2 linked regions of the Homo sapiens genome follow. The protein of the gene in region 1 purifies or fractionates together with the protein of each later gene. This does not show direct contact. Each region holds a gene or a part of one and is shown on either strand. Other genes may lie near its edges.

Region 1 (5,313 bases):
TCCCTCTCTTGACATGTGGGGATTACAATTCGAGATGAGATTTAGGTGGGGACACAGAGCCAGACCATATTGATGATTCGTAGACCTAAATAAAACACAACAATATAAAACTGGAAGAAGGTAACATCAGAGAAAATTGAGGTGGCTTTGGGTTTGGTGATGACTTTATAACACCAAAAGCACTATCTATTAAAAAATTGCTAAGTTTGGCTTTATTAATATAAAAAACTTCTGCTCGGTGAAAAACACTGTTAAGGAAATGAAAAGACAAGCCACAGACTGGGAGAAAAATTTTGCCAAACACATACCTGTTCAAGGTCAGGTATCCAAAATATACAAAGGACTCTTAAAACTCAATAATAAAAAACAACTCAATTTAAACATGGCCCAAAGACCTTGACAGACACCATGAAAGAAGATAACGCAGATGGCAAATAAGCATAAAAGGAAACCTTCAGTGTGGTACGTCAATAGGGAACTGTAGATTAAAGCAGTGATTGAGATGCCACCACATACCTGTTAGAATGGCTAAAATCCAAAACACTGAGAATAGCCTGGGCAACATGGTGAAACCCCATCTCTACCAAAAAAATACAAAAAATTAGCTGGGCATGGTGGCTTGCGCCTTAGTCCCAGCTACTTGGGAAGCTGAGGTTGGGAGGATCCCTTGAGCCCAGGAGGTCGAGGCTGCAGTAAGCTGTGATCGCACCACCTCACTCCAGCCTGGGTGACAAAGCGAGACCCTGTCTCAAAAAAAACCCAAAAACACTGATAATACCAACTGCTGGCAAGGATGTAGAGAAACAGGAAGGAACTCTCATTTATTACTGGTAGGACTGAAAACTGGCACAGCCACTTTAAAAGTCAGTTTGGCAGTTTCTTATGAAACTAAATATGTTATTATATGATGCAGCGATTGTGCTCCTTGATATTCACTCAAAAAAGTTGAAAACTTACATTCACACAAAAGCCTGCAGACAAATGTTCATAGCAGCATTATTCATAATTGCCAGAACTTGGAAGCAGCCATTCATTTCTTCAGTAGGTGAGTGGATGAATGGATAAACAAAATGTAGTGTATCTGTATGATGGAATATAATTGAGCAGTAAAAAGAAATGAGCTATCAAGCCATGAAAAGATGTGGAGGAATCTTAAGTGCATATTACTAAGTGAAAGAAGCCAGTCTGAAAAAGCTCCATACAGAAGGATTCCAACTGCATGACATTCTGCAAAACTGTAGAGATGCAGAAAGGATCAGTGGTGGCCAGAGGTTATCGGAGAGGAAGGGGATCAGGTAGAGCAGAGCACTGAGGATTTGTTACTTCCCACTTAATTTCTTTCTAAACGCAAAACTGCTCCAAAAAATAAAGTCTGTAAATTTTTTTAAAATTAAATAATAGGTCGGGTGAATGGATAATTAAATAATAGTAGGTGAGTGGATGAATGGATAAACAAAATGTAGTGTATCTGTAGTATGGAATATTATTGAGCAGTGGCTCACACTTGTGATCCCAGCGCTTTGGGAGGCTGAGGCAGGACGATTGCCTGAGCCCAAGTGCAGTGAGTTATGATCATGCCACTGCACTCCAGCCTGGTCAATAGAGCAAGACTCTGTCTCTTAAAAAAAAAAAAAAGAAAGAAATTTAAAAATAAACTTGCACGCAATTCACCTTTCGCGGGAGTACCTTGATACTGAGCAAGGCCTTCTTAAAAAGTGCTGGTCTTGGCCGGGTGTGGTGGCTCACATCTGTAATCCCAGCACTTTGGGAGGCCAGGGCGGGCGGATCATGAGGTCAGGAGTTCAAGATCAGCCTGGCCAATATGGTGAAACCCTGTCTCTGCTAAAAATACAGAAATTAGCTGGGCGTGGTGGTGCGCACCTGTAGTCCCAGCTATTCAGGAGGCTGAGGCAGGAGAATCACTTGAGCCCTGGAGGCAGAGGTTGCAGTGAGCCGAGATCGTACGACTGCACCCCAGCCTGGATGACAGAGCGAGACTCCATCTCAAAAAAGGAAAAAAGTGCCGGTCTTTGGTTTTAGGATGGTCTTGGCCGGTTTACCTTCCACTGAGATCATAATCCCTCTGCATAGTTTTTTTAGTTTACTGGAAAACTACTATTAATTGAAGCTTCTGATAGTTTTCAGGTGGCTCAAAGTGAAATAAGAACTTTTGGAATTTCACTATGTCTTTGGTTGATTTTACATTGCGTTTTCATTATTCCGATACGTCATCTCCCTGACAAGTAAGGAAGTTGCAGATTAATTGTGGACGTAAGATTTTTGAGTTGAGGAAAGGTGTTTTTTCTCAGAGCCGCCCCCTCTCTCTCCCAGCTGCAGGACTCATGCACACGTTCAATGCCCACGCCGCCACTGACATCACGGGCTTCGGGATTTTGGGCCATGCGCAGAACCTGGCCAAGCAGCAGAGGAACGAGGTGTCGTTTGTAATTCACAACCTCCCGGTGCTGGCCAAGATGGCTGCGGTGAGCAAGGCCTGCGGAAACATGTTCGGCCTCATGCACGGGACCTGCCCGGAGACTTCAGGTACAGGATGCTGGGCGCATCTGAGGACTAAATAGTGAGGCTAACAGAAAGCTCAGCGAGAAAGCAGCAGCCCCACCCCGAGTGGGCCCCCACTCTGTTCGAGTTCCATGCTGCTGACCTCGGCCTCCGCAGCAGCTGGTGCCTTTCCTCCTCCCGGTGGGTCTGGTCCCCGCCATCCTGGGTGGATCCAGCAGCCTTGCTGAGGTTGAGTGGCCTGTGCTCTTTTTGATGCAAGGATATGGTGATGGGGGAAATAAGGTAGCATTCAGTTTTTACTGAAAGCTTCGCATTTGAAATTAACTGTAATACCCCTAGGTTACTTTGAACAGGTGATATTTTTTTCCTTGAAAATTGTCTAACGTTGTTTTAAGAATGATAGAGAGAAAAGGGGCCAGGTGTGGTGGCTCTTGCCTGTAATACTGGCACCTCAGGAGGCTGAGGCAGGCACATCACGTGAGATCAGGAGTTGAAGACCAGCCTGGCCAACATGGTGAAACCCCATCTTCACTAAAAATACAAAAAAAAAGTAGCTGGGCGTGGTGGTCCATGCCTTTAATCCCAGCTGCTTGGGAGGCTGAGCCAGGAGAATCACTTGAACCTGGGAGACAGAGGTTGCAGTGAGCCGAGATTGCGCCACTGCACTCCAGCCTGGGTGACAGAGCGAGATTCTGCCTTAAAAAAAAAAAAAAAAGAAAAGAGAATGATACAGAATAAAAAAGAATGCAATAGGATATTATGTCTTTAAAATGCCATTTTTCTTTTTTCTTAGATGTGCAGTAATTTATTAGAGGAAACATAAATGGAGGATAAACGGGAGATGGAGCAAGCGTAGGTAGAGAGAGCCATCAGACAGCAGTGCAGGTCTGACACCATACGCCCCAGTAGTTTGACTCCTAGGGAGCTTTTATATCCCTTATCATTTTTCTAAGATTAAGCTCCTTTTGTTTCCTGATTAATTTGGTGGCCACATCTGTCCGGAACTTGTGGGACGTCCTCCTCTTCATCATGGCAGGTACTCCAGCATGGCCTGCCGGCCGCCGAGGCCGCCACCCACAGCCTACAGGCTCGCCATCGCTCATTCCCACTCCCGCAGCCCCAGCTGGAGCCAGATGGCGCGTCCTCCTGAAGTACCATTTCTCTTTTGCCCCCTTTGTTCCCTTTACCTTTACTGTTTTCATCTTTTAAGTCTCCCTGTTTTTCCCTTTTTTTCGGTTTCTCTCTTTTTCTATTTCCTTTCCTCTAGAACTCTAGTTTTCTACCCGCAAAAGAGTGGAATCACCTTAGGATTTTAAATATACACATGCCGGCCAGGCCTGGTGGCTCACGCCTGTAATTCCAGCACTTTGGGAGGTCGAGGTCAGGAGTTCGAGACCAGCCTGACCAACATGGTGAAACCCTGTCTCTACTAAAAATACAAAAATTAGCGGGGCGTCGTGGCGTGTGCCCTGTAATCCCAGCTACTCCAGAGGCTGAGGCAGGAGAATCGCTTGAACCCAGGAGGCACAGGTTGCAGTGAGCCAAGATCGCCCCACTGCACTACAGCCTGGGCGACAGAGTGAGACTCTGTCTCAAAAAAAAAAAGAAAAATACACATGCCTAGCCCCAGCCTCCCAAAAACGGTGGGATCCATCTCGGGTGGGCCTGGGCCTCAGCATCTGTGAAGGCTGCCTGGGAGATTCCGTAGTAGGCCGGGGCAAGGGACCACAGTGCTGGGACCACAAAGCCCTGGTCACGTCGACCTGTGCTGTGGCGAGGGGGCTTCAGGACTCTGCCAGGCCTCTCACCGCCTTTATAGAGGACGCTTCAGCCTCCCGTTTAAAAAAACAAACCATTTTCTAGAAGTAAGCTCCAACAGGGCAGGGTTTTTTTCCCCTGCTGGTTCAGGCTCTGGCCAGGACAGTGTCTGCCACATAATTGGGCACTGAATGGAAATTGAATGAATTGACGAATGTTACCAGCCATTTAAATTTGTTTCCTTTCTTCAGAAATAGGAAGTTTTTAATTTTATGATGGAGTTTTCCTCTTGTCACCCAGGCTGGAGTGCAATGGCGCGATCTCAGCTCACTGCAACCTCCCCCTCCCCGGTTCAAGCGATTCTCTTGCCTCAGCCCGAGTAGCTGGGATTACAGGGCTGTGCCATCATGCCCAGCTAATTTAGAGACGAGGTTTTACCATGTTGGCCAGGCTGGTCTTGAACTACCTCCTGACCTCAGGTGATCCACCCGCCTCGGCCTCCCAAAGTGCTGGGATTACACGTGTGACCCACCATGCCCAGCCACAAGGTTTTTACATTTTGTAGAAGTAGACTACAGTTTTTCCTCATCATCTTATTTCTACTTAGAGAAATAAATTTTGGCCCGGTGCAGTGGCTCACGCCTGTAATCCCAGCACTTTGGGAGGCCAAGGCGGGTGGATCACGAGGTCAGGAGATCGAGACCATCCTGGCTAACACGGTGAAACCCTGTCTCTACTAAAAATACAAAAAATTAGCCGGGTGTGGTGGCGGGCGCCTGTAGTCCCAGCTACTCAGGAGGCTGAGGCAGGAGAATGGTGTGAACCCGGGAGGTGGAGCTTGCAGTGAGCCGAGATCACACCACTGCAATCCAACCTGGGAGACAGCGAGACTCCGTCTCAAAAAAAAAAAAAATTTATGGCCTATTTACTGGAAAGAGCAACAAAGGTTTATTTTAATGTATTTTATACTGTTTGTCTTTTGGATATAATGACAGAGTCATGACTGGAACCTAGATACTTTGGGGCATACACTGT
Region 2 (5,313 bases), on another chromosome or scaffold:
TGGGAAGGCAGACCCACAGGTCGGGAGAGTGGATGTTAGAGTGCTTTATTAAGTATTATCTGTGTAGAAATTTGAGTCCTAAACCTACATGAGATAGCTGAGTAAGGAAGTATAGGGAGAGAGGAGAAGGCCAAAAACAGCTTAAGATGGGATTATAAAGAGCTCCCATGGAGGAGGAAAGAGAACTCTACAGGAGAGATCAGCAAGTAACCAGTTTACTCAACAACATTATACATTGTTTTTAGAGAGAAAGATAAATGATTCAAAAAAATGTTTAATGACTGGAATTTTGGATGTAGTTCTGTGGTAATAATCTTAACTTACTGAATGACTTTTGCTATATTCTTACCCCAAACCCCTTCCTCATAGGTAGAAGAAGAAATCCAGACTCTGTCTCAAGTGTTAGCAGCAAAAGAGAAGCATCTAGCAGAGATCAAGCGGAAACTTGGAATCAATTCTCTACAGGAACTAAAACAGAACATTGCCAAAGGGTGGCAAGACGTGACAGCAACATCTGCGTATGTTTCCTTGATCATACACTTTCCTTGGGAGTGTAAAGGACACTGTTGTGCCTTTTGTCTGGAGAGGGGAAGAAAAAGAGGATAAGGATGCTTCAGCAGCTTTTCTTTGGACGACACGGCACCCTTTTTTTCTGATTTTCAAGTGTGCCTGCCTTTTTTTGTAACTTCAATTTTTCCAGACCACTTATTCTAAGGAATAGAAAGAAAGCTAGCCAGTTGGAGAAATAAAATTCAAATCCCATAAGTGTTATGTATTGACTTGCCACAAATATGTACATTTTGTCCTTTAGTACTCAGAATAACCCAGTAAGAATGGGTGGCAAGATAACCCTGGATAAGGAAACAGGCTCAGACAAATTAAGTTTTCATGTCACAAACCTCTCAAAATGTGGAGTGGGAATTCAAACTCAGGTCTGGAGCCAGTCTTTATTATTATTATTAATGTATTTTTTTAACCTTGTTGTGTAGGTATCAAAAGATTCTCAGGTCGTAGTCTCAGATATATGCTCTTGGCAGAGGTCAATCCCTTAGGCTTTTTGTCTTTTTGACCACACATGCTATGATATAGCATTATCATAATGCAGTTTTGTTTCCCGGCACAAGGAGGAGCAAGCTTCTAGCAGCAGAAACCGAACTGCTCTGTCTTCTGTATTGAGAGCCATCTGCAGAGCTGGTGAGCACAGAAGTTGTTTTACAATTTAACTATCAGAAGTGAGGCCAACTGCATTTAACATGACAGTACTTGAGTCCCCAGTCTTTTGGTCCATTTTCTACCCATCTAAGTTGGCAGTGGGAAAACATACAGGAAACTATTTTTTCAACAGTATTACCATGAACCATGTTTTTTTATTGGTATTTGATCTTGACAGGGTAAGTAAAAATGCCTGAGCATTCTTTCCCATAATGTGGGAATTGTTTTGGTAGGTACGATATTATTTTGTTTTTTGTTGTTGTTGTTGTCATCATTTTTTTGTTTTTGCTTTTCTCTTCTCTAATCTCCAGGTAGCTGGGAAGGAGGTGGTAAATTATAGCTTTGCGTGATAGCAGATACCACACTAGAATAATTTTAAGCATTGCATATTTTACATACTTTGTTGAAAGTCCATCATGTCCGTATTTGGTAGCTCTCTAAAGACATGCAAAAATTTTTAGAAAGTATGCCCATAAAATGTATTTGGATAATAAAATACAAATGGGTCCTACTTACGCCAGCTACTAATTGCTTCTGGCCCTTTTTTAGGAAATCAAGTTGACAAAGGCATCTGAGGAATTTGATTTCATTTTTGTTTTGTTTGGATTATGTGAGAAAAGAACAATAGGTATGAGTTCTTTCAGGCCTTTGCTTATTTTCATCTTGGTTTGATGATTATTTTTAGCCCTTACCTTGACTTCTTTGGCCCTGCCTTTATAGGACTCTGTCTTTCTGGCTGGACTAGGGCACTGCAGAAGATTGTGCCTGAGCTTAGGGTTGAGCATACGAAGATGTGGTGATGCCGCTCTGCTGGTTATGAAGGATTTTAGAAGTTCTGAAAAATGTTTTCTCTTTTTGAGAGTTCTCCAGCAGGTGGTGACCACTGCACTTGAAACAATTGATATTAGAAAAGATGAGCTGACCCTTCTTTTGCTCTGTGTGTTTATAATTTAATATAGTTACAAGAAGACATCTGAAACCTTATCCCAGGCTGGACAGAAGGCCTCAGCTGCTTTTTCGTCTGTTGGCTCAGTCATCACCAAAAAGCTGGAAGATGTAAAGTATGTCCTCATTTTTCCTTGCTCATTAAGTAGCTGACGCAAATTAAAATGTTATTGTTGTTGCATCTGTTTCCTGACCTTGGCTCTAGTTGATGCTAGCTACTCCTGTTAGAGTGAGGGAGGGCACTCCTTCAAACCAGTACCTGGAAGGCTCATCTAAGGTCTTCTAGGCCTAGCATTCTAACATCAAATGATCATCTGATGATCATTTAAGGTTGTTGAAAAATTCTGGTTGTGAACTTCTTTGTCTTTTTAGTTCTTCATGATCATGCAGGGTAAGTATGTCTTTGGTTGCAAATTTGTGATTGTGGGCAGAGCCTGGTGTGTTACTAAGGATGACTACAGGAGCACTGAAGTGCACGCTTCGATTCAGATTTGGCTTCACGTTCTATATGTGACATTTTATATCATGGTGTGATTACAACATGCTCATTTGTGCACTGTTTTATTCTAACTGGTAAGCTGTAACTATGTTCATGCTTAGGCCAAAATCTTGATTTTGAGTTGTTGCTTTTTTTTTTTTTCATTTAGATTAGTCTGCAGAGTTTTCCTTGCCATTTTTATAAAACCACTTCACAGTGCTTTTGTGCCCCCCCTTCACTCATGTGGATTAGGATAGTGATGAAAATGACAAATGTGGTTTAAGTCAGCTGTGCTTCTGTTGGCATGCAAGATTTGTGTTTAAAAAAAAATGCTCAGATTGCATGGCTTCGTGTTTTGCATTTGTGGGGAAAGTGTATATCTTACAACCAGAATTTCTTGGTTGAATAGATTTGGTCAATTTATGTGTTATACTTTACACCAAAAGAACAAATTCCTCGCTCATTATATTTAGACTGTCATTGTCTAAGCATAATGTAATAAATATAGCTTTCTTGAACTCTTTTGACAATTATGTATGTATCTATTAGGTGTTCATTTTCTCTATGCTGACTGAATTGTGTAGCAGTTTAGAGCCCAGGGAAAACATTATATGTTTAAAACTTAGGTTATTTAATTGTTTTAGATTTATCAGAACTTCTTTCTTTTTTAATGCTTACTCTGGCTTCTTACAGATTGCAAGCCTTTTCACATTCCTTTAGGTAAGGAGAGTTTGAACCATCACTGCAGTCCAGCAGTTGTATAAGAAAAGTGTGCTGAGATTAGATTACCATGCTACGTTGGATGATCGTGTTTGTCCAGTACATAATTTTCTTGCGTTTAGAGTATCTTTTTCTCTAGTGCATTCCTAATTTCAAGGGAGGGTTTCTTGTATACCATGGGTAGTTGATAAATTAAAAGAAGTATTTGACACTGTGGTTCAAGGGATATGGAAATGATTTTGACATTTCTTTTTTACTTTTTTCTTTGGTAAAAAGAAGCAGCTTTACCATGGCATGCAAAATTCCTCCCTTTTAATGTCTGACTTTGTTTGTTTTGATGCTTTTGTTTCTTTGGTACTTTTGTAAGGATGTTGGAATTCTTCACCTGGGTTTCATTACACAATTGTAACAGACTGCATATGTACTGCCTCCTGATGTTAGTCTTCCATCTTCTATTGGTTACTCTACCTTTTTTTTTGTTGTTGTGGTAAAATATACATAAGGTAAAATCTGCCACTACTCTGCACTTTTTAATACTTGTTTTACTAGCTTATAGTTTTTATGATTTTATTCTTTCTTTACACTTGTTATATTCTTTATGTACACAAGGCAACTTCATGGTTTGAAAAAGGGAAAAGAATATTAAGCTAAAAAAAGCACATTAAAAAGATGTTAGCTCAAACCATGCCTTATAGAAAGAGACTTTGTGATGTTGAGGAAACCTTTCTCTTTCCCAGGCAGACTCTTTGATTATCTGATTAGTTGTTGGAGGAAACTAAGGTGGAGGAAAGTCTTTAGAGTATAAGCAGGAAGGATGATATAGTAGTCTTCATCTCTGTTCCTATGGATGCAGATTATTTTCTTAAGCAATCACTCATGGTAGTCTAGCTGCTTGCCTTTTTAAGTAAGCAAACAGGTACTTAAAGCTCCTATCTTGGTGACACTTACCCCTGGAAGTCAGAGTAAATTATAGGGATATATAAACTCTAAATGTTGAACTATTTAAAGCTAAAATTATGCTTAAAAAATCAAGTAACCAATGATAGGTGATTGTGTATCGTTGGCATTCAGTTAAAAAGTGCTATAAGTAACTGAATACAGAGCCAGTCACATCACCCATTCTGCTAACATTTAGAGTGTCTACTGTGGACAGGTTCCATGGGCATAACCATAAAGAACGCATGGCTTTTATTAGAATGAAGCTTAAAATCTTAGAGTGGAGTAGGGGAAGAGTGGGGACTTGGGATAAGTTAAGAATGGAAGAGCCTTATCAGTACTGGTTATAAAATGTTCGATGTGATGCAAACATCAGTGTAAGATATAAAAGTAAGGGCTATTGAGGATGATGTTTCTTCAGTACATATCACTAGACTTTTCTATACCTTTAAAGAATACCTTTCTATACCTTAAAGCCATACCTAGATATGGCTCAGTGTGTGCTGTCTTATTAATTCATCAGCAACAAATTATGTTTTGCAACTGTTTTCTAGCTCCTTTCACAGTCACTTTGTCCATTTTGTTTAAAAAATATAATTAAGATTATGCTGTACCATTTTCAGTCTTGTTTTTAATAAATATTAAGTTTTTATGAATATTTAATTGCCCATCAGTATGTAGGGGTTAAAGTAAGGTTTTTGATTAAAATTTGGAAATGAAAGAAATGAGATTATCTTTTGAAAGTTAAACTTTGTAATTCTTGCAAATCACAGGTTAGGTAAAGGCATTTAAAAAAATAATTTCAAGGCCAAGAAGTCCTGATTGTGTTCTGATTTAATGTGTTGACACATATAAAGAAAACCTACATCTTTTAGATTATGTGAGTCACAGAGGCAAATATTGGCCACGTTCCCTCAAGAACTACCCAAGGAAAGGGAGCTTAGGCTGTAGATTTGAGTGTTACAATTCCAGCAATAAGTCCTTTTCTCCCATGGAGGTGGATACAGTAGGCTCCTTTTGCT

Evidence for each region.
Region 2: the proteins of SEPHS1 (region 1) and TPD52 fractionate together in Homo sapiens (co-fractionation; one large-scale study listed by BioGRID). This does not show direct contact.

The regions. Positions count from the first base shown.
Region 1 is NC_000010.11:13,320,066-13,325,378, reverse strand, and holds part of SEPHS1 (selenide, water dikinase 1), read left to right. Parts: intron 1-2,331; coding exon 2,332-2,544; intron 2,545-5,313. UniProt on the Homo sapiens protein: Synthesizes selenophosphate from selenide and ATP.
Region 2 is NC_000008.11:80,048,487-80,053,799, reverse strand, and holds part of TPD52 (tumor protein D52), read left to right. Parts: intron 1-369; coding exon 370-518; intron 519-1,124; exon of another isoform or gene 1,125-1,194; intron 1,195-2,171; coding exon 2,172-2,273; intron 2,274-2,529; exon of another isoform or gene 2,530-2,548; intron 2,549-3,328; coding exon 3,329-3,355; intron 3,356-5,313. Other genes in the region: TPD52-MRPS28 protein, read left to right, coding at 370-518, 2,172-2,273.